2 separate regions of the Homo sapiens genome follow, and region 2 is linked to region 1. Evidence: fine-mapped expression QTL. A gene starts in region 1. The other region holds a variant in brackets. All regions are shown on one strand. Distances are from middle to middle.

Region 1 (9,933 bases):
CCCATGCCAGCCTTCTTACAGACGTGTGCTACGGGACATAGGGGCCCAAGTAGGGTATCTGGAAAATCAACAAACACTAGAATTGGAAAAACAAGCAAAGACTACAGCACATGTGTAATTACCAGCTTGTACAGGCATCTCGTGGTTTTAAAATAGTAGTTCCAATAATGTGAGACCTTAAATTGTCTTTTCAACATCACTGATGATGAGTTCTCAGAATCAGTGTATAGATGAAGAAAGTCAATTTTATGCTTATGATATTTAAAGAACCGTTCTTGTTTTGTTCATTACATCTGTAACATTTTATTTTCTAATTAAACTTTAAAATTATGTCCTTCCACATAAAATGGCATCATAAATCAAAATGAGAATACTTAAAACCCAATTGTTACACCATTGTCAAAGTCTAATTACATAACGGTCATTTTATAAACAAATGAAACCCCTCAGGGCATGTCATGAGGGGATATTGCCTTTTCTAGGCTGAAGTCACTTGGCATCAAACTCATCTTAAAAGGCTCCTAAGGTGTGGTAATATCTATGACTCATGAATTGTCCTTTCATTGCTGTACTGATTACATGATTTCCAAGATTAAATGAGCTATTAGATTCTGACTTCATTTGTTTACTGCACCCAATATTTATTACAGTAAATATCACGTTCATTAAGTAAAATTATTGCTATCCACTTGCCAGATATTACCAAAGAGAGGTGGGGGGAGAGAATCTAGTACGTGTATTATTAAATCAATGGTTCTATTTACCCCAAAGGCAGTAGTGAAGAGATGGAAAGGTGGCTTTATCCAAAACCCCAGGAAATCAACCTGAGGCACCCGTAAACTAGTAAGAACTCTTCAAAGGGGCTAGCAGCTCACTACCCTGAAATGGAGGAAGCCTAACCAAAGTGGGGTCCAGCAGGGCACACTCTATGGTGGAATGAAGAGCGCACTGAGGCTGAGGGATGGCAGGAAGAGAAGGCAAGGGACCAGGTGGTAAGAAGCTCATTCAGGATAAAAAAAGAGGAAACCCACAAGTGAACTTGAGTAATTGGTGACTTTTCTGAGCTTCAGTATCCTCTTCTGTAAAAAGAGATGGGTAAACCAGAAGGTCTGAAGCCTCCCTTTGATTTCACAAGTCCATGTTTTTATGCTTGGGGTTGCATGGAACACATGCAGTAGCAAAGAGCCCAGGGGTCAGGCCCACCTACAAGCCACCCCTGCTCCACACTGGGGTGGGCAGGTCTGCCTTTCCAAGTCTCAGCGTCCTCTGGAGCCTGCAAGCAAAGAAGTGTGGCACACAGGCAGTCACCTCCTGGGAGAAGCCCAAGGGTAGATACAGTACTTCTAACTACTCTCATTTTTTTTTTTTTTTTTTTTTTTTGTAAATAAGAGCACCTGGAATAAATTGAATACTAAGTGTACATAAGCAGCATACATTTCACTTACTATACTCTACCACATGTTGTACGTGCTGCTTGGGATAAAGTGTTCTCTCTTCTGAATGTTTTTACACAGCTTGCTACTTTAGAGTACATACTTAATATTATCCATTCCCACCGCATTGAAAGAGGCCTGCCAAAAGTTAAGGATGCCAAAAGAAAGGCAGGAGTGCAGCGCACATGCTGGAGAAGGAGAAACTCTCTAACCACTTTTAACATCTTGTTTTTATCAAGACTCTCATGTCAAATGAAGATTATTCCAGGACTATGAGAAAAACGCCAGAAAATGGGCCCTTTTGAGTGCAAATTCAGGAGAATGCCCAGGTGTGAAGCACAGTTGACCTTCAGCAACACTGAAAAATTGGAAACATTTGTGTTGTGTCATCTTCTCCTACCTCTTCTTTTAGAAAATTTTCCTCTCTTTCCTACCTCACAGCTTCCCACTCTGCCTCCTCTTCCCCTGCACCTCTCCAGGACCCCATCATTTATATCACAGTCTTCAAAGCATCCCTCCCCAAACTCCAGTCCTTCTGGCCAGCTTTTGGGGAAGAAATTGCACTCACAATTTAATCCATACTAAATGTTAAAATCTGATAATGGTTGAACTTGGCCTTTCAAAAGTTACCTGCAGTTTAGAAAACATGTAGGCACAAAGTGTCATGCCAAAGGAAAAAAAATTCCAGTGACAGATGTTCAGGTCAGTTGGACAAAACAGTCTGAGGAATGAGACCATAGATTTTTCAACTTTTCAAACAGGTCTAGAAATCTGAGCCATAATGTAGTAGGAAACTGTGGCTACTATTAACTCTTCTCCATGTTTTCTGGTCAGTTTTATTTGTTTTGGGGGGTCTCCTCATGGTTTGGTCAACTATCAGTAAACATCCAATATGTGAGAAAATAATATACTGTACTTAAATTTATGTCCAGGTTGGGCTACATAGAAATAGATGAAATTTGTCATTTTTAGATTTGTATTCTTGTCAGTCTATTGCCTGGTACAGGTATCCTTTAAAAAAAGAGTAGTCTCTTTGGGGACTTGGGAAGAAAGGGTGGGAAGTTGGGGAGGGACAGGACTACAAACTGGATTCAGTGTATACTGCTTGGGTGATGGGTGCAACAAAATTTCACAAATCACCACTAAAGAACTTACTCATGTAACCAACTACCACCTGGTCCCTAAAACCCTATAGAAATAAAAAATTTTAAAAAAATTGGTAGTCTCCACAAGTCTGGATGAGTTATTCTACATTTCCCTTTTAATGTCTTGTCCTTAGCTAGTTATAAAGTTAGCAGAGTTCTCAACCTGAGTACTAGTGACATTTGGGGTCAAAAATGTTTTTGTTGAGGGTATTATAATGTGTATTGTAGGATGTTCAGCAGCATCCCCGGCCTCTACCTGCCAGATGCCAGTAGCACCCTTCCAGGTTACAGCAACCAAAAATGTCTCCAGGCATTGTCAAATGTCCCCTGGGAGGCAAAATCGTCCCCATTTGAGAACCACAGAGTTAAAGTAAGATTACAAAAATGAAAACCCAACTCACAGTTAGGAAGAAAAAGTTAACGGTTGTTTTTACAACGGTGGTAATGTGGTATGCAATTCAAAATTATGTCCACTGGCTAACCTCTACATAGTTTTATTCTAAGGCGAATCGGGTATCAAAATCTTCAAAGAAAAAATGATTCAGCAACTAATAGAGTCTGAAAAAAAAAGAGTATTAGGGGAAGCCCCAAATATTAATTTAATTTAAAGGGAAATTCTTCTGTCTTCTGGTCATAATACATGCTTTTTAATAAATAATTTGTGATACTAGAAAGAACAAAACCAATTGGGACACACAGCACCTTGCCCTTGTCAGCTGAGATGGCGTAGCAGACAACTGCAGAACAAACTTCAATCACAAAGATAATTTTTTGAAATAGATGAGTTCAAGTTACCAGAATAGAGAACTAGCACTAACCCATCTAATAGGTTACAAGCATCTTTTCAGTTTTACGGGATTAAGTGATTGATAAAATTTTTAAATTATGGCAAGCCTGAAAAAAATTAAATACTTGCCTCTCTTGCAGGTTGCTATTTTGGAAGCAATAAAGACTCAGCTCATATGAAAGTGTATTGCCCATTCTTCTGCCAATTCACGTTTGGTTGTAGAATTTTCTTCTCTTCCAGCCCCCCTCCACCTCCCCTCATGACATCCCATTAGCATCCCAAGACAAAGGCAGAACTACAGGGGAGTGGCGCTGGGACCCCTGTGGGTCTTTTCTCAGGCAATGAGAGAATCAGATTCTCCACCTGGAACCCATAAAGGAAGGAACGCCATAACACACAGCTTTTAAAACACATGTTTACATACACTTACAGGAGGACAGGTTACAATATATTCTAGTCCTCTTTCTCTCACTTCAAATTCCATCAGTGTTGTAAATCGGCTCATCTTATGCCCCTTTCTTTCTCTTTCCTCTAGACCAGTGGCTCTCAAAGTGTGATGTGATCAGCATCCCCGGGGAACATGTTAGAAATGCAAATCTTCAGCCCCCACTCCAGACTTAGGGAATCCCCTAAAGTCCAAGCACTCCTTATTTAGGCCAGTGTTCTTTCTAGAACCACAAACATTGTTTCTTACAGAAAGCAAAACTGCAATTCTCATTTCATCCTCAAGCCTGCTGCAAGGTAGTAATATATTAGCCCCACGTGAGCGATGAGGAAACCGGCTCTGGGGTTAAGCGTCGGCTCAAGGTCTCAAAGCTAGTCACTGCAGGTGGAAGATTAAAGTGTTTGCACTTCTTTTCACTACTGAAACAAAGCTATGGCACTTTATTAACAACATCTGGATTTTTTGCTGGTTGGCTGGTTGGTTTTTGTTTTTGCTCTTTCAGCTTTCGTCAATTCGGAAAAATATAAAACAGAGTGGGTGAGAGTAGTGTGCCATATGCCTCGGGTCGTCCCGAGTCGGAATTTAAGGGCAGGACTCTAGAAAGGTGTTTTTCCAGTAAAGACCGTTTCGTTCTGCTGCGGTCCTTCCTGTCTTTGTCCCCGGGACAGCACGCAGCAGATAGAAGCGGCCAGAGCTGCATGGCGGGGCCGCGGGCATCCCCGACGCGACAGGTTGTCCGCGGGAAGACAGCCAGTCCGCGAGGCCCCGGCGCGCCGCGGCTCCGGGCCGGGGGTACTGGTTTACAGGGCAAATTGGCACACCCCAAAGCCCAGGGGACACCCGGGCCTACGCCGCAGCCCGGAAAGGAGGGGGTGAGTGGTGAACCCGAAACCGCCGAGGGCCGCGCGGCCAGAAACCACACGGAGCGCTAGGGTCGCAGTGAAGATCCGGGAGGAGGGTGCAGGCTGGAGGGGAGAGAGCGGGCGAGAACCCACGAAATGGAAATGAGGCGGAGAGAGCGGGTCGGCACTCACTGTGAGGGTCGCTCTTCTCCCGGACCCCGTCAACTCGGCCGTCGGGGTGGATGCGCAGGAAGAAGCCCCCGTTTTTGCAGTACAGCCGCTTGGGGTCCTTGAAGTGGCCGGGCGGGAAGGCGCCGCTGCCGCCATCCTCGGGCAAGGCGGGCAGCGTGGTGATGCTCCCGGCTGCCATGGTCCCTGCGGGGCCCGGCCGGGATCCCCGAGCCGCTGGAGCCGCGCGGGGAGCCGCCGTCCCCCGGCCCCGGCCCCGGCCTCCGACCCGCTCCGGGGCACGGCCCCGGCCCCGGCCCCCCAGCCTCCCGCCCGGCAGCGCGCGGCCGCGCCCGCGGTCCCCCAGCCTCGAGCCGCTCGGCCGCTCTTCTGTCCGCCGGCCCCTGGTGCGCGGCGAGCCGGCGGCCCGGGACCTGGGGTTCACGGATGGGTGTCTCCGCGGACGCCGCCTGGGGAGAGCCGCCTCCCAAGCTGCAGCGCCCGGGATCCCGTTGCAACCGCGGGCACCGCGTCCGCTAATCTGGCACCCGCCGGGCCGCGGCGTCACATCTTCTACATCTCCACCCCCCACACCCACCAGCCTCCCGCGCCCCCAGTTCTCCTCCCTCCTGCGCGCCGCCCCCTACTCGCTCGGGTTTTCTGGGGCCGGCCTCTGAGTTCGGCGGTTCGGCCACAACACGCAAGCGCGCGACATCAGTCCGGCGGGGAGCCCGGCCTCAGTCGGGGGCGGGGGAGAGGCGAGGGGCGGGGGGCGCGCGTCGGAGGCCGCGGCAGGGCTTTGGCATTCCCTGGGCTCCACCGCCCCTTATCCCCCAAAAGTCACCCCCGCCCAACCCCCGCACCACCCAAACCACGTTTAGGCTTTCTCCACACTGCGGGGCTTTTGCTGCGCAACCAGCCGTGACTCAACTTTTAAAAGTTTAAACTCAACTTTCTCCCCCATTTTTTCCCCGCTAGCGTTTCAAAACGGAGAAGCCGTTTCCACCCCAAAGTAGAGAAGTTGCAATCCAAGGAAGAGTCTGTGTCAGAGCAGGCTTTGAAAATCTCTAAATCACCAAAAGACGAGGGGTACAAGTGGGGCATAAACTTTAAAATTAAAGGACAGAGGCTGAAGTCGTCTACCAACAAAAGGAGAGAAAGAGGCCAGAGAAGGGGAGCAGATTGGGTTGCTAAAACGAAAAGGTTTCCTTTACTGACCTATCTTGAATTAGACGACGCAGAAAGATGAGGATGGGGATAAGGATAAATCCTTATCGCGATCGAAGCGCATTAATGTCTTAACTCGGACCTGGCATTTGCCCTAGCTAAATTGTTATGCATTTCTTGGAGAGAGAGTTATTTTCTGTAAATCCCAAATGTAAAATTGAAGTTAATTGCATTTTGGTAATTTTCAGTAGGATATAGCAGGTGCCACAGATGACTAGGAAAATATCTATTCAGAAAACTTGCATGTATTGAGTACCTACTGTGTGCAACACATAATGTTGAGTGTGTGGGAGATGCCAAATCTGATGCCAGCGTCTCACACACTGAGGGAGATAAGATGGGTAGCATGAGTAACACAAATAGCAGTAGAAAGTAGGCCATAGAAGAGTAAGACTAAGTGCTGTGACATTTCAGACATCGGATAACTCAGCGTGGGGAGGCAGGAGATTTGGGGAAGCTTCTAGAAGGAGTTGCAAGTATGGACGTGCCTCCTTGTAGAAACATTAGGTTTCAAAAGGCCATGCATAAGTGCATTTGTTCTTAAGTCTCCAAGAAGGCTTTAACTCCAGATGCATTTCTAGAATGTTACATACAGGAGAATGAGTAAATTCTTTGAAGCTTTAAAACCAGGCATACTGTTTTTATTTTTATTATTTATTTATTTTTTTTAGACAGAGTTTTGCTCTTGTTGCCCAGGCTGGAGATCAATGGCACGATCTCGGCTCACCGCAACCTCCACCTCCTGGGTTCAAGCGATTCTCCTACTTCAGCCTACCGAATAGCTGGGATTACAGGCATGCGCCACCACCACGCAGGGCTAATTTTTTGTATTTTTAGTAGAGACGGGGTTTCTCCATGTTGGTCAGGCTGGTCTCGAACTCCCAACCTCAGGTGATCTGCCCGCCTCAGCCTCCCATAGTACTGGGATTACAGGCGTGAGCCACCGCGCCAGGCCCAAAACCAGGCATATTCTTCTTTCTTCTTGCAGTTGGTATATGTTCTATAGAGGAGGAAAAAAAAAATTTCCCCATTCATTACTAGGTTTATGGCTGAAGCCCCTGTAACAAAAGACACATTAACAAGAGAAAAACATACTAACTTATTTATGTGAGTTTTACACAAAACAGGAGACTTCAGAAATTAAGACCCAAAGTTAAGAGGGAAGCCTGTGTATTTTTAAGGCTAGGATTGATAAAGAAGTGGAAGTCATGGAGAAGTATGATTGGACAAATCTGTGATCTAATGGTAATAAACTGGGGGGACTTACTTAGCAAGGCCTATTTGCTCAGATTCTTTTCCCTGTCCGTGTGTCTTCAGAGATAAGGATGTCTGTTTCCTCCAGGTATAGGGAAGGCACCTCTGGAATGAAGGTCTTATGGTCTGCCTCAGAAGAGAAGATCTGGGGAAAGTGAAAGTAACCCTCTTGCTTCTGCTCTTTTCTTAAGTGCCAAGGTACCATTATTTTTGGGTAGCATGTCCTGAACGCCATCAGTTCTCTAACATCTCTCTCCAAAATGGATTTGTTTCATCTTCATTGAAGATCCGTCTGTTGAGACAAAATCACTCCCTCCAGATGATCTCTGTAGGTGCTACTGTGGTGCTGAGTAGTCCCTAGAATGATTGAACTCTCACTTGAACTCTGTGTCACAGAAACCTGAGGATTCCAGGAGCACGGGGATAAAATCTAAGTCATGATATTTTTTAACAATGGCATCCAGAAACCTGGGGAGCAGCTACACGCAGTAAAATAACTTGTATTCCCTACAATTCAAACAAATAATCTAATTTTCAAATGGGAAAAGATTTGAACAGACACTTCTCCAAAGAAAATATACAAATAGCCAATAAACACATGACAAGGGGCTCAACATCATTAGACATTAGAGAAATACAAATCAAAACAACAATGAGATACTACTTTACACCCACTAGGATAGCTATAATTAAGAAATAACAACAACAAAAAATAATAAGTGTTGAAGATGTGGTAAAAGTGGAACCCTCAAACATTGCTGGTGGAAAGGTAAAATGATGTAGTCAATATAAAAACAGTCTGACAGTTAACTCTAAAATTAAACAGAGTCACCAGACAACCCAGCAATTCCACTCCTAGGTATGTAGCCAAGAGAATTGGAAACATATATTCACATGAAAACATGTACATAAATGTTCATAGCAGCTTTATTCATAATAACCAAAATGTGGAAACAAGCCAGATGTCCATCAAATGATGAATGGATAAATCAATTGTGGTATATCCATACAATGAAATGTTATTTGGCAATAAACAGAAATGAATTACTGATACGTGCTACAACATGGATGAAGCTTGGAAACATTATGCTCAGTGGAAAAAGACAGAAAAGGCCAGGTGTTATATGATTCCATTTATATGAGATGCCTAGGGTAGGCAAATCCATAGAAACAGAAAGCAGCTTAGTGGTTGCCAGGGCTGAAGGAGAGGGAAATGGGCAGTGACTGCTAATGAGTATGGGATTTCCTTTGGGACCTATAAAAGAGTTCCGGAATTAGATAGTGGTGATGGTTATTACACAACTTTGTGAATATACTGAAAACCATTGAATTGAACACTTTAAAATGGTGAATTTCATGATACATGAATTGTATCTTCAAAAAAAGAGAAAGAAAAATAATAGATGTCAAAATGAAAATGAGTTTTTTTCTCCCATAAAGTCGGGAGGAAAAAGATATCATCCAGTGCTATTAAGGATGAGGTGAACCAAAGACCTTATCGACAGTCAGAGGGAGGCTAAATTATACAGCATTTTGGGAAAACTATTTTAAAAGGTACATCACAGTTTTAATTTTTGATTTTTTTTCTTTTTTGAGACAGGGTCTCGCTCTGTCAACCCAAGCTGGTGTGCATTGGCAGAATCGTGGGTCACTGTAACCTCGACCTCCTGGGCTCAGGTGGTCCTCCTACCTCAGCCTCCCAGGTTTGCTGGGACTACAGGCGCATGCCACCATGCCTGGCTAATCTTTTGTATATTTTATAGAGACAGGTTTCACCATGTTGCCCAGGTTGGTCTCAAACTCCTGGGGTCATGCGATCTGCCAGTCTCAGCATGCCAAAGTGCTGGGATTACAGGCATGTGTCACCATGACTGGCCCAATTTTTGAAATTTAAATAACCATTTGAGGCAACAGTTTTGATGTAAGAAATTTATTCTCAAGAAACGATTATAGATGTACACAAGATTTATTAACCTGGATGTTCATTATATCCTTGATCATAATGAGGAAAAATAAGGGATAATCTAGGTGATTAATGTGAATAAATTACATTATATTCATTCGAAGTAGTACGTTCCATGTAGCCAAATAAACAGTTTTGTGGGAGAATATATAATAACATGAAAAAAATTCTTGCAATATTGTATATTGTTAATTGAAAGAAGTAGGTTACAAAACTGTATAATAGTATCTCATTTATTTAATATGCTTTCATACACATAATAGAATGAGAAACACTAAAGTATTTGTAGTGATATTTTGGAAGGTAGAATTTTTTATGCAAACAACTAATTACTCACTATCACATAAACTTATCATCTAAAATTGTATCTTGTTTGTTTTTGTATTTATTATCAGTTTCCTTCCCCTAATATAATACAAGAAAACTTAGAGCAGAGATCTTTCTGACCTGTACATTGCTGTATCCCAAGGACCTAATGGCACTAAGTGGGGCCTCAGTAAGTTGGTTTGCTTGTTTGTTTCTTTTTTGACAAATGAAGGAATGCATTATTTTCATCACCGAAAACTGTTTTTGAAAGCTAAGTTCATCATCTACATTATGGAAGGGCAGGTATCAGTGTAGTCAATGTCTGTGGAAGTCTTTCTTTTAACCATTTCATAATGAAAATCA
Region 2 (9,933 bases), 320 kb before region 1:
ACTTAATGGCACATATTAAAATATAGTAAAGGCAGTTGCTATAGGCTAGCTACAGATCAACTCCATTATCCACTGCTATATTTGCTTTCTGATTCTTTCACCTTTCCAGCTGATCTGCTTCCAAGTCATTTTATAACCACCCACTCTTCACTACTCCCCGGAAAAGTTTCATTGTTTAATTTTAAAAGCATTTCTCTCTCTCCCCCTCACTCCCCACTTTTCAACAAAATGTGGAGTTCTGGTCTCAATCATTATGCACACGTAGCTCTTAGTGCTAAAAAGGAACTGTATGTATACTTAAAAAAGAAAATTGAGATTTTTGCCTTCTCACATGTACCCATGTTTAAATAGTGGTAAAGGATGTAATTTCCAGAGTTTTGTAAATATTGAGATTTTAAAATAAGACCTTTACATCAACTCTTTCAACATATTCAACAGATTTAAATATACAGTGATTTAACACTACCATCTATTTAAAAGATATCTTTGAGAAATTTTACACTGCTCTTTTTTTCTCCTTGAATTTGTACTTCTACTCTACTATCCCAATAGAATTTCCTTCTTTCTCTGATCATCTTGTAATAATTCTTAGAAAAATATGCACATATTTTGAAATTTTAAAAAGTGTTCACTCATATGAACATAAGGTTCTAAGTATTACGTTTCTTCTGGATTGAATGAGCATTACAATGATTCATGTACAATTACATAAATGTATTAATGATTTTTGGAAAATATAATTAAACATTAAGGTTATAGAAAGTTCGTTTCTTAATGAGACAGCTGGAATCCTCTTATTAGTCTCCCTCCCCAGTGAATTTTTATAGACATTGTAAACTATTACTTATTGCTACAATTCAATTTTTTAGATTCTATTTCAATTTCTAAAAAAAATTTGTGGAATAAAGTACAGAGAAACCTTGTTCATACAAATAAGCGAGAAGTAATTCTGTTCTAATCATATTCCTCAAGTATTTGAAATCTGTCTATATTATATATCAGGAATGATGACAGATAACAACTGAAAATCTTTTTTAATTGTAACTACTGAGAAAATAAGAATGAAAAAGGCAAATGGTAATTATTATGATCTTCAGACCACACTCAGTAAACTGGTACTGAGTACCAGTTTAATAATAGATGGCTTTAGTGCCATCTATTCTCTCAAACGTAATACCTGTATTTCCCACTGCCCACTTGTTTGATGCTTCAGAGGTAAAGAGGAGTTTGGAGAAGAGAAACTTCCACCCCCATCACAAGTGAATTCTCAAGCAGATCAGTTTTAGGCACTAAAGATCTAGAAATGGGTTTCCTTAAACTATCATTCCTATGTATACCATGCACAACCAAGACATGACATCTCCTGGTTTAAAGAGATTCATTAAATTTAAGAAATTAGTTAACTTTGATCATACAGCATTTAAGTGTTAGAGTAAGATAACAGAAGAGTGAAATGGGAACACAAATATATAATATAAAATAAGATCAAGTTTATCATAAAATGTTATAGATCTTGGAGTTTCCAGTATAAAGGAAGGAAAAATTGTTTAGGATAGAAAATAACTTGGAAGTGAAAGGAGTATGGGGCATTTGTTGGGACAGATCTTTGCTCACGGAAGACTTATGAACAATGTGACATGACAGCATAGGTTGCCCTAGTAGTCAGTCCCTAGGTGTATGTCCCTAGCAACTGCAACGAACTCAAACCCTGTGCGCTTTGCCTTGTAGTGTAATCATGAGGGAAAAAAATGAGAGGTTTGGCATCCACCCCTTGTGATCTGAAAGAATAAAAATATTGGAGGCTTGGTTAAAGTGACACAATGGTTCCAATGGTGCTGCAACATGTTCAGATAAAAAAGCACCTGGAAATCTGTGTTCTTTGTTTCGTTTGGTACTGAAGCTCTTTTCTCAATTTATCAGTATCTGTTCATGTTATCTCTGATGTCTATTATTAAACAGAGAGCTTAATTTTGAGTTTCATAACTATGCATATTTTTCACTGTTAGTGTCTAAAGTTCATAAATACTTTCCCTGATGAATACAAGAACCTCAAAATTTTCACCTACTCTGATCTCTAACTGACTTCCTTACCCATCTTGTCCCCATAACTGCTGAAAGACTAATATTACCTGGAGTTTTAATTCTAAGCCAACAAATTACTTGGCTCTTATTTCTTTTCTTCCCCTTCTTTTCCGTTTTTCTCCCCATTGTGTGGCTATAAAACTATACCCTTTCTTGGGTTCTTTATTTCCTTTTACTAACTATATCTCACTAGTTCCTTCTGGACATACTTTTCTTGCCTGGTGCTTTTCAGAAATAGTGTTGGTACAGTAAGTTTTCTGAGATCTTGTATATGAGCAAATATCCTTACTTCTCCCTCATATTTAAATAAGTTAGTTGGATAAAATCTTAGGTTCAAAGTTAGTTTCCTATTTAGTGGCCTCTTGCATCTAGTGTTGTTGAGAAATCTGTCAGTCTAATTCATGACAGCAAATCAATCTCTTTCTGTTGGCATTTATCACATGTGTTAACAGGATTCTAGACATTAAATTTGCATTAGAAGTACAAATATGTTCTAAATTGTTCTGAAGTACTGCTATAAGTATTCAGAGTATACACAACCTCCAAAAAGAAAAAATAATCCAAAGATTAAGAAATAACATAAAAATACATTAAATTACTGTTAATTAAACTTTAAAAGTTCGTAGTCCAGTTTTCAGTAATTAGGATGCCACTCTCAAGTAGACATATTATTCTTTAACCAATATACCAAAAGGATATACCTCATTGGGGATCAGTTTCCTAATCTATAAAATGAGTAAATATTTGGAAGAGAATTTTATGTAGTGAATTCTCAAGGAATGATACTAACATTTTTCACTTTTGTTATTATCGTTTGGAAACTGTTAATGTCACCGGCTTTGGATTTAAACAGATTTAATACTAGTATATAAACTACTGACTACTAACTTTGTGGAAGTTTTAAATTCCCTAAACTTCAGATTCCCCTCATGTAAAAGGAAGAGATAATGAAAAGTGCTTAACATATTAGCAGATTGAAAGTGCATTATTTGCTACTATTATTAGGTGTGCAGTAATCTAATTGCTTAATTTGTCATATAACCAGTGAGTTTTATCTGAAGGACTCCTGTGTAATTTACAAGATGAAATGAAGAAACTGAAGCCAACTTTAAGGCTTTTATGTCTTTTACTCTGTATGTTCCTCTTCCCTGATGTATCTGTCCACAGTTTTCAGTTTCATTCAAAAATTGGGCAACTGAGTAAAAGAGCTGGCCCATGTATGCAAGTTCCATCAGTGTGGCCAGGTAAAATTATTCTCCAAATTGAAAAATGAGTAATAGAAATGGTAAGAAAAATAATTATTAATTATTTTTTAAAAATTAACTCTATGCAAGGCACAGCCTCTAGAACCACCACAGGAAGAGAGTGAATCTCTGCCTTTTAGAAGCTTCCAATTTCGGGATAAACAAAAAGATAAACAGCAATGTAAAGTCATATGCATTAAATGCTGAGTGGATCTTCTAGCCTGTATGTTCTAAAGAAAATGGAAAAGAGAAAAAAAATTATTGTCTTAGGAAAATAATTGCTTCCAGTACATTTTCAAAGCCAGTTCCACTTTTCCACAGGTCCATCTACTGAAAGATGAAACCAAAACCAACAGAAGACTACAAGGCCATTCAGAACTATTCATAAACTAGTATGACCAATTTCATCAAGTAATCAAGAAACAAAGTTCAAGTTCCTATGACTCTGAAAATTTTACAACACAGGTTCTTTGAGGTCACTTTTCCTATGTTTCAAAAACTGACTATAAAAACAAGTACTTTTCCCCCAACTTTATTGAGAGAAATGCTTTTGCTTTTAATCATATCTAACATTTAAGACAGGTTAAAGAAAGGAAATATCCCTTTTAATTATGGAGCTTTTTAATTACTGTGTGGTTTACAACAGTCTCACTTACAAGTCATCGTCCTTTCAAAACTAAAGCTAGCATCTCTCTTTATAGTATTATTTACTGGCTTCCCTTGCATCTGGCACCCAGGTCAGTGCATAGCAGATCAAACTATAATCTGAGCTCAGATCACAATGAAACAAAAGCCAAGGAAAGCCCAGTTAGCATTA[C/T]TATATTACTTACAGCATGTAAATAAGCTGAATTAGATAATTTACATTTTATCCTTACATTAATTGAACTTTGCTGTGCAAGCCAGAAAGGTATCTATTAGAAAAAAATATTAAAAGCAAATGAAGCCAACAGATATATAGAGCTAAACAATGAGAACACGCTCTTTTCAAAATTTCCATCAGATCTATAAGGCAGTATAACAGAAAGAAAATGATTACAGTAATTCCTAGAGCAACTGGAAAAGTTGTCAACCCCATAGGTGTAGATTATTCTTGAGTTTTTCTACCCATTTACTGCCTTTTCCCCAGGTATACCACACAAGTTAATTCATTTATCCACTCACTCAACATCTGTGGAAATACTTCCTAGTACTAAACAAAAAGTCTGGGCTAACGAATACAAAGATGAAAACATTATATAGCATTACGATGAAAACATTATATAGCCCTTACAAAACACCAGTAGTCTGTTGCTGGTGAGGCCTGACTTTCTGACTGAAAAGAAGGAAAAATAGATTTAGCTTTCTAAATGTCCTTTCAGGTTAAAGGAAAAAAAAAAAAAAAAGAGAGAGAAGTTTATGCATATCCCTGAATGAAGTCAAGCTTTGGGTTCAGGAGTATTTTTATTTTCTCCCCCATGTATGAAATTTTAAAATCATTCATCCACCGAGAAATGCAAAGCATTACATTCTATTCTTCATGTTTCCACAGATTGGAGACTAACTTTATTAGTATATAATGCCAATTTATTAACATAATTTCTCCTTATTTCCTCTTAGTAACACTTAAGTCATGCCTTCTTTAAACTCTTGTACCTATATCAGCACAAATACTGTACTTAGTTATTTGCCCGAAAATTGGAAAAGCTCATAAGAAGGTGGGTTACTGACAATGGATAAGAGCCATATATACATCAACCATTGCAAATTCCATCAGATCTTGGAAATCCCTAGAAAGAAAGGCACAGATGTGATATACGTTAATTATCAAATTGTGAAAGAGAAAGTAGATGTTGATAGGTCTCCCAAAAGATTATTTATAGTTAATGTAATAGCGACGACTGCTGAAAACTTGCTGAAATATTTTGTAAAACAGGATTACATTTTTTAACATTAGAATTGAAAGGGAAAAATAAAGCAATTGAAGGTACAACAACTTAAAAATTTTAGTGCTAAAGTCGGGTGTGTATCTTTGATAATCTTTCTTTTTTTTTTCTGGAAAAACTAATAATACAGGGTGAATACCCCTTATCTGAATTGCTTGGGACCAGAGTGTTTCAGATTTCAGATTTTTTTTGGATTTTGTAATATTTGCATTATACATACTTACTGGTTTAGGGTTGAGCATCCCAAACCTTAAAATCCAAAATCCTAAATGCTCCAATGAGCATTTCCTTCAAGCATTATGTTAGAACTCAAAAGTTTCAAATTTTGGAGCATTTCAGGTCTTGAATTTTCCAACTTAGAATGCTCACCCTGTAATAGCTATTGCGTCTCAAGGCCTCACTTTACAACAAATTGTAAGCCAAATGATTCGTATAAATTATCTCTTCTGATCCCCTAATATTTCTACAAAAGAGTTATCATTCCTATTTTAAGATCCATGTATACTGCAGATTATTTTTAAGGGAAAAGCAAGTAGTTATGCAATCCTGTATTAGGTAAAGAAGTACTTTTCACAGCCATTCTTGGTTTTCCAGCTGTTGGGAGATTAACCCTGAGAGAGCATCTAAAGAACTACCATTCTCTTAAATTAAAGGCCACAGAATGAAGTGAAGTCTATGACAGATTACCAAAGTTAACGTATCTCAAGTTGTTTAAGAGGGACATGAAATCAACAATGAATAGATTCCTTGGAAATATGACAATTTAAAGATGAAAGAAAATTACTCACATATATAATACAAAATTATATCTGCTTTATCCAAATGTTAGTTTTTCTGATGCTTTCTAAATTAAATATATTTATTTATATGACGAACATTCACCAAAACTTAAGAGTACCAGGAACCATGCTAGACTAGGCCATGAATAAAACATGACTGCTGTCTACCCAGGCCTGTGAAAGACTTTACATCTATGATAGCACTGTAGTAACTACCAAGGCTATATGCATGTGTACTTACATGCATGCATACATACATTCATTCCTACATTTGACAAATGAGTAACTCTATGTAATAAGGTATTGTTCTAGGTCATGTTCAGTGATAATTAGTATCCAAAAACAATTAAAAACTTCACAGTGATACAGATATTTAATGCCAAACAGCCAACCTCTCTTGCTAAATTCTTCGCAAAAATATAACCTATATTCACTGTCAGCTGTCCCAGTTGTGTCTATATAACATTAAAGAAAGGAGGAAAACATCAAGGAGTTTTAGATGATGAGATGAGTCAAAGACCATACGAATTCAAATAGTCAACCTAAAGCTCTAAGGACAATACTGCCAAGGAATGGTCTTAAAATACATATATCCCCCCTTTTAGGAGGGGTCACGTTTGCTACAAAAAAGTGGCAAGTGAGTAAAAAGGCAACCCACAGAATGAAAGAAAATGTTTGCAAATCATCTATCTGATAAGGGATTAATATCCAGAATATATAGGGAATACCTAAAACCCAACAACAACAAACAAAAAACAAACAACCCAGCTCAAAAGTGGGCAAAAAACTTGCATAGACGTTTCTCCAAAGATGCAGATCGAGCCTCTACTTACAACGGAGTTCCATTCTGATAAACCCATCAAGCTCAAAATATTAAATCAAAAAAATATTTAACATACCTACCCTACTGAACATCATAGCTTAGCCCAGCCTAACTTAAACATGCTCAGAATACTTACATTAGCCTACAGGTGGGCAAAACAAATCTGGCAACACAGTACACTATAGAGTAACACTGTTTTTTTGTTTGTTTGTTTTGTTTTGTTTTTGAGACCGAGTCTCGCTCTGTCACCCAGACTGGAGAGTGCAGTGGGGCAATTTTGGCTCACTGCAACCTCCGCCTCTGGGTTCAAGCGATTCTTCTGCCTCAGTCTCCTGAGTAGCTGGGACTACAGGCCCACGCCACCATGCCTGGCTAATTTTAACTTCCTAGTCAATGCAGCAGAAATGTAATATAATTTTTAAAAGCACCCAGAACAACTGGGAGATCAATGCCTACCAGAACAAGCAAGTCCCCTAGTGAAAAATTCCAATTCACCACAAAGTTATTCTTTTTGTTTTGCTAGAAACTTTCTTTTAAAATCATGTCTTTTCTAGAGAACAGACTTTTAAACACATGAAAACAGTAACTATTTTACATTCTATTATCCATGGTAAAAATATGCTGTGGACCTTGCCTGTTATGTCCAAAATTAGTTGCAAATCATGAAATCTCAAAATTGTGTGTTATATTCTAGATGTCATCTCACCAGGACAGAATACTATGAAGTTATTAGTTATGCAATCTAGATGCTATAATTAATGTAGGCTAAAATGACACGAGCATTTTTTTTAGTAGTTTCATGACAATGTTAACTTTTGTTCCATGTGGGGTCAAATTTCCATGTACCACCAAACAAGTAAAATCTTTCTCATCCTACAAGTGTTACTTTAGTGAACTTAAATGTAAAATTTTAGATTTGTTTTCAGTAAACTCCATATTGTGAAAATGTTATATAATGTTAAGATTATTATTACCATGAATATAAAAATTAGTATCTTGTCAAAGTTTAAAAAATGGGAATACACATAGAGCAATGTGATAATAAGCAATCAACTTTAAAAAACAAGTATACAAAGGGTTACCCTTAAGTAGTTTTAAATAAGAAGCAAATTTAATTCAGTATTTTTCAATTGAGAGATTTATAATGCCTGTGGCATTACAAGAAAGAATCGCTTTTTTAAAAAAAAAAAAACCTTATCCTCTAAGGGAGGTGTTGTGACACAGAACAGGTGTGAAGCATTGACTCAATAAATAAGCCTAACATATCATCATATATCAATCATTTAGAAGGCTATTTGCATTATTTTCTATTGTGATGTTGGAATGTAAGTAAAAGAAGAAAACCAGAATTTTAAGCACCAAATCCATTAAGCTATGTACATCTAGCACTCCCAACTACTGAAACTGAAAGCAGATTCAATTTAAAAAATAAGAGTGGTTGACAAAGGATGGATTTTTTCACTTACTCATTCTCCCGTATCAACAGCTTTATTTCCTACCTGTCATTTACTCAACTAAAGGTTAGATATTCTGAAAACAGGTTTGTTTACTTTACATATCAGGATTGAAGGAAAGAAACGAAATATAGTACAGTATTTATTTTCCTGAAACAGTTACCAAAATTTTAGCCTTCAAGAACTATGGTATACCAAAGAAAAGAGTAAATCCCTTGATCTCTCAGTGACCTATCTGTTGATATTTGCCTACTCCTGAGGGCTGCTTGAATACCTGAACAATTTGTTTTATCCTGGAAACCTATTTCTCTGCTATGACTGAAAAATAATGGGTATCAGTCTGAAAACAGAAAAAGCTCATATTAAATAATAGGCTTATAAAATTTAATAGAATGTAGAACTTGAATGATTCAGAAAATCAGTAACCATTCACAAAATAAATGGTTCCCAAAATTGCTCCTATTTATGGCCAAACCATAATGTAATAATGTGGCAATTTTTGTAAAGCATGTAATGCAACATAAGTTTTGACTTAAATGAAAGATAAAAGTACACCTCATAATGACTAGTCATTAATCCAGGTATTGCTTTATCAATCTAATACCCTGAAACTTACTGAGTATCTTAATTCACTAATATGAAGTTTAAATTGCCACTGAAGTATATTCTTTATTACTACATTTGTAAAACTAGAATTTACACTGTTACCTGTGGCTTTTCCAAATCAAAATTCTAACTGACAGATGGATCAAGTTTTAATCTTCAAATATTGGTGCTGATTTTCTCAAATCTTTAAAAGTTATTTGATTCCAGAAAGAAAGAAAAAATAAATAAAAGATGGTTGTGTCTGAGACCTGAGGCTATTAAGAAAGAAAACAAAACTACAGGTTGGTTAAAGGAAGTCTGTAGAATTATTTCCCTACTGGTTTTAATGAATGTTTCTGAATGACCTTTGAGTACCAGTTCATTAAGAACAAGACAGTGATTGCTACAGAATCAGGAAAGGGAATGCAAAGAGAAAGTTGCCAAATTCAAAGGCTTTTAAAGTATTTTCACTCTATGTACTTGGAAATAATTTGTTTCATAGGCATCAAGCTTTTGTCTTAATATTTACATCTGTTTTATCTCCTCATTCAAGAAAAGCTATAATATAATCAAAGTTACAGAAGAAACAGATAGCTATTAAAAATTCCAAAATTTAAATACCTCTTAAAACCACATGGTTAATAGGAACATTTTAGGTGGATAATGTAAAGAGTATTCCCATTTCACTGGTAAGGTTTGAGTCTGATTAAAAATTCTAGTTCTTTGATATACATATATTTTATACATATACATGTATATGTGTTTCTAAATTTGAATTTATTCAACTCTGGTATCCTAAGAAAAAATGTAAATCTTATTTTTGTTATTATTATTCACTAATAGTATAAAGTATGGTTCCCAGTCTGTCGGTTGTAGGCTCCTGGGCTTGAAGACCTATAAATACCAAATATTACCTTAAAAAAATGAAAAAGTATATTTTGAATATATTTATTTTTTTTCCAAATGTTAAGTGTACGCTGTTATGATTACAAAAAATAGATAATTAAAGTGTTACACAACTTGCAGTAGTATTTTCCCATAAGG

Which allele goes with the higher level. Positions count from the first base shown, and alleles are read on the strand shown. Sizes are in standard deviations (SD) of each study's normalised expression.
For the expression in subcutaneous fat of the gene that starts at base 5,366 in region 1, C is the high allele of the variant in region 2 and T is the other (large effect, 1.2 SD a copy in FUSION).

The links. PIP is the estimated chance that this variant, and not a neighbour inherited with it, causes the effect.
Region 2: its variant is the best candidate, but not a certain one, in a credible set for the expression of FGF2 in subcutaneous fat (FUSION, PIP 0.53).

Annotation. Positions count from the first base shown.
Region 1 is chr4:122,822,264-122,832,196 of GRCh38, reverse strand. It overlaps FGF2 (fibroblast growth factor 2), which reads right to left and starts at 5,366. Exons shown (of 3, transcript NM_001361665.2): 1 at 4,845-5,366. The coding sequence starts at 5,022. RefSeq lists enhancers at 3,834-3,883, 3,410-3,935, 3,924-4,063, 3,936-4,461, 4,744-4,823, silencers at 4,409-4,703, 5,044-5,523, cis regulatory regions at 6,023-6,061, 6,062-6,132 and promoters at 5,189-6,156, 5,325-6,507.
Region 2 is chr4:123,138,607-123,148,539 of GRCh38, reverse strand. The region is part of intron 14 of AFG2A (AAA ATPase AFG2A); the gene reads right to left. Among named protein-coding and RNA genes, the nearest start is that of AFG2A, 220 kb to the right of the region's middle. The variant C/T (reference allele first, on the strand shown) is at 4,144.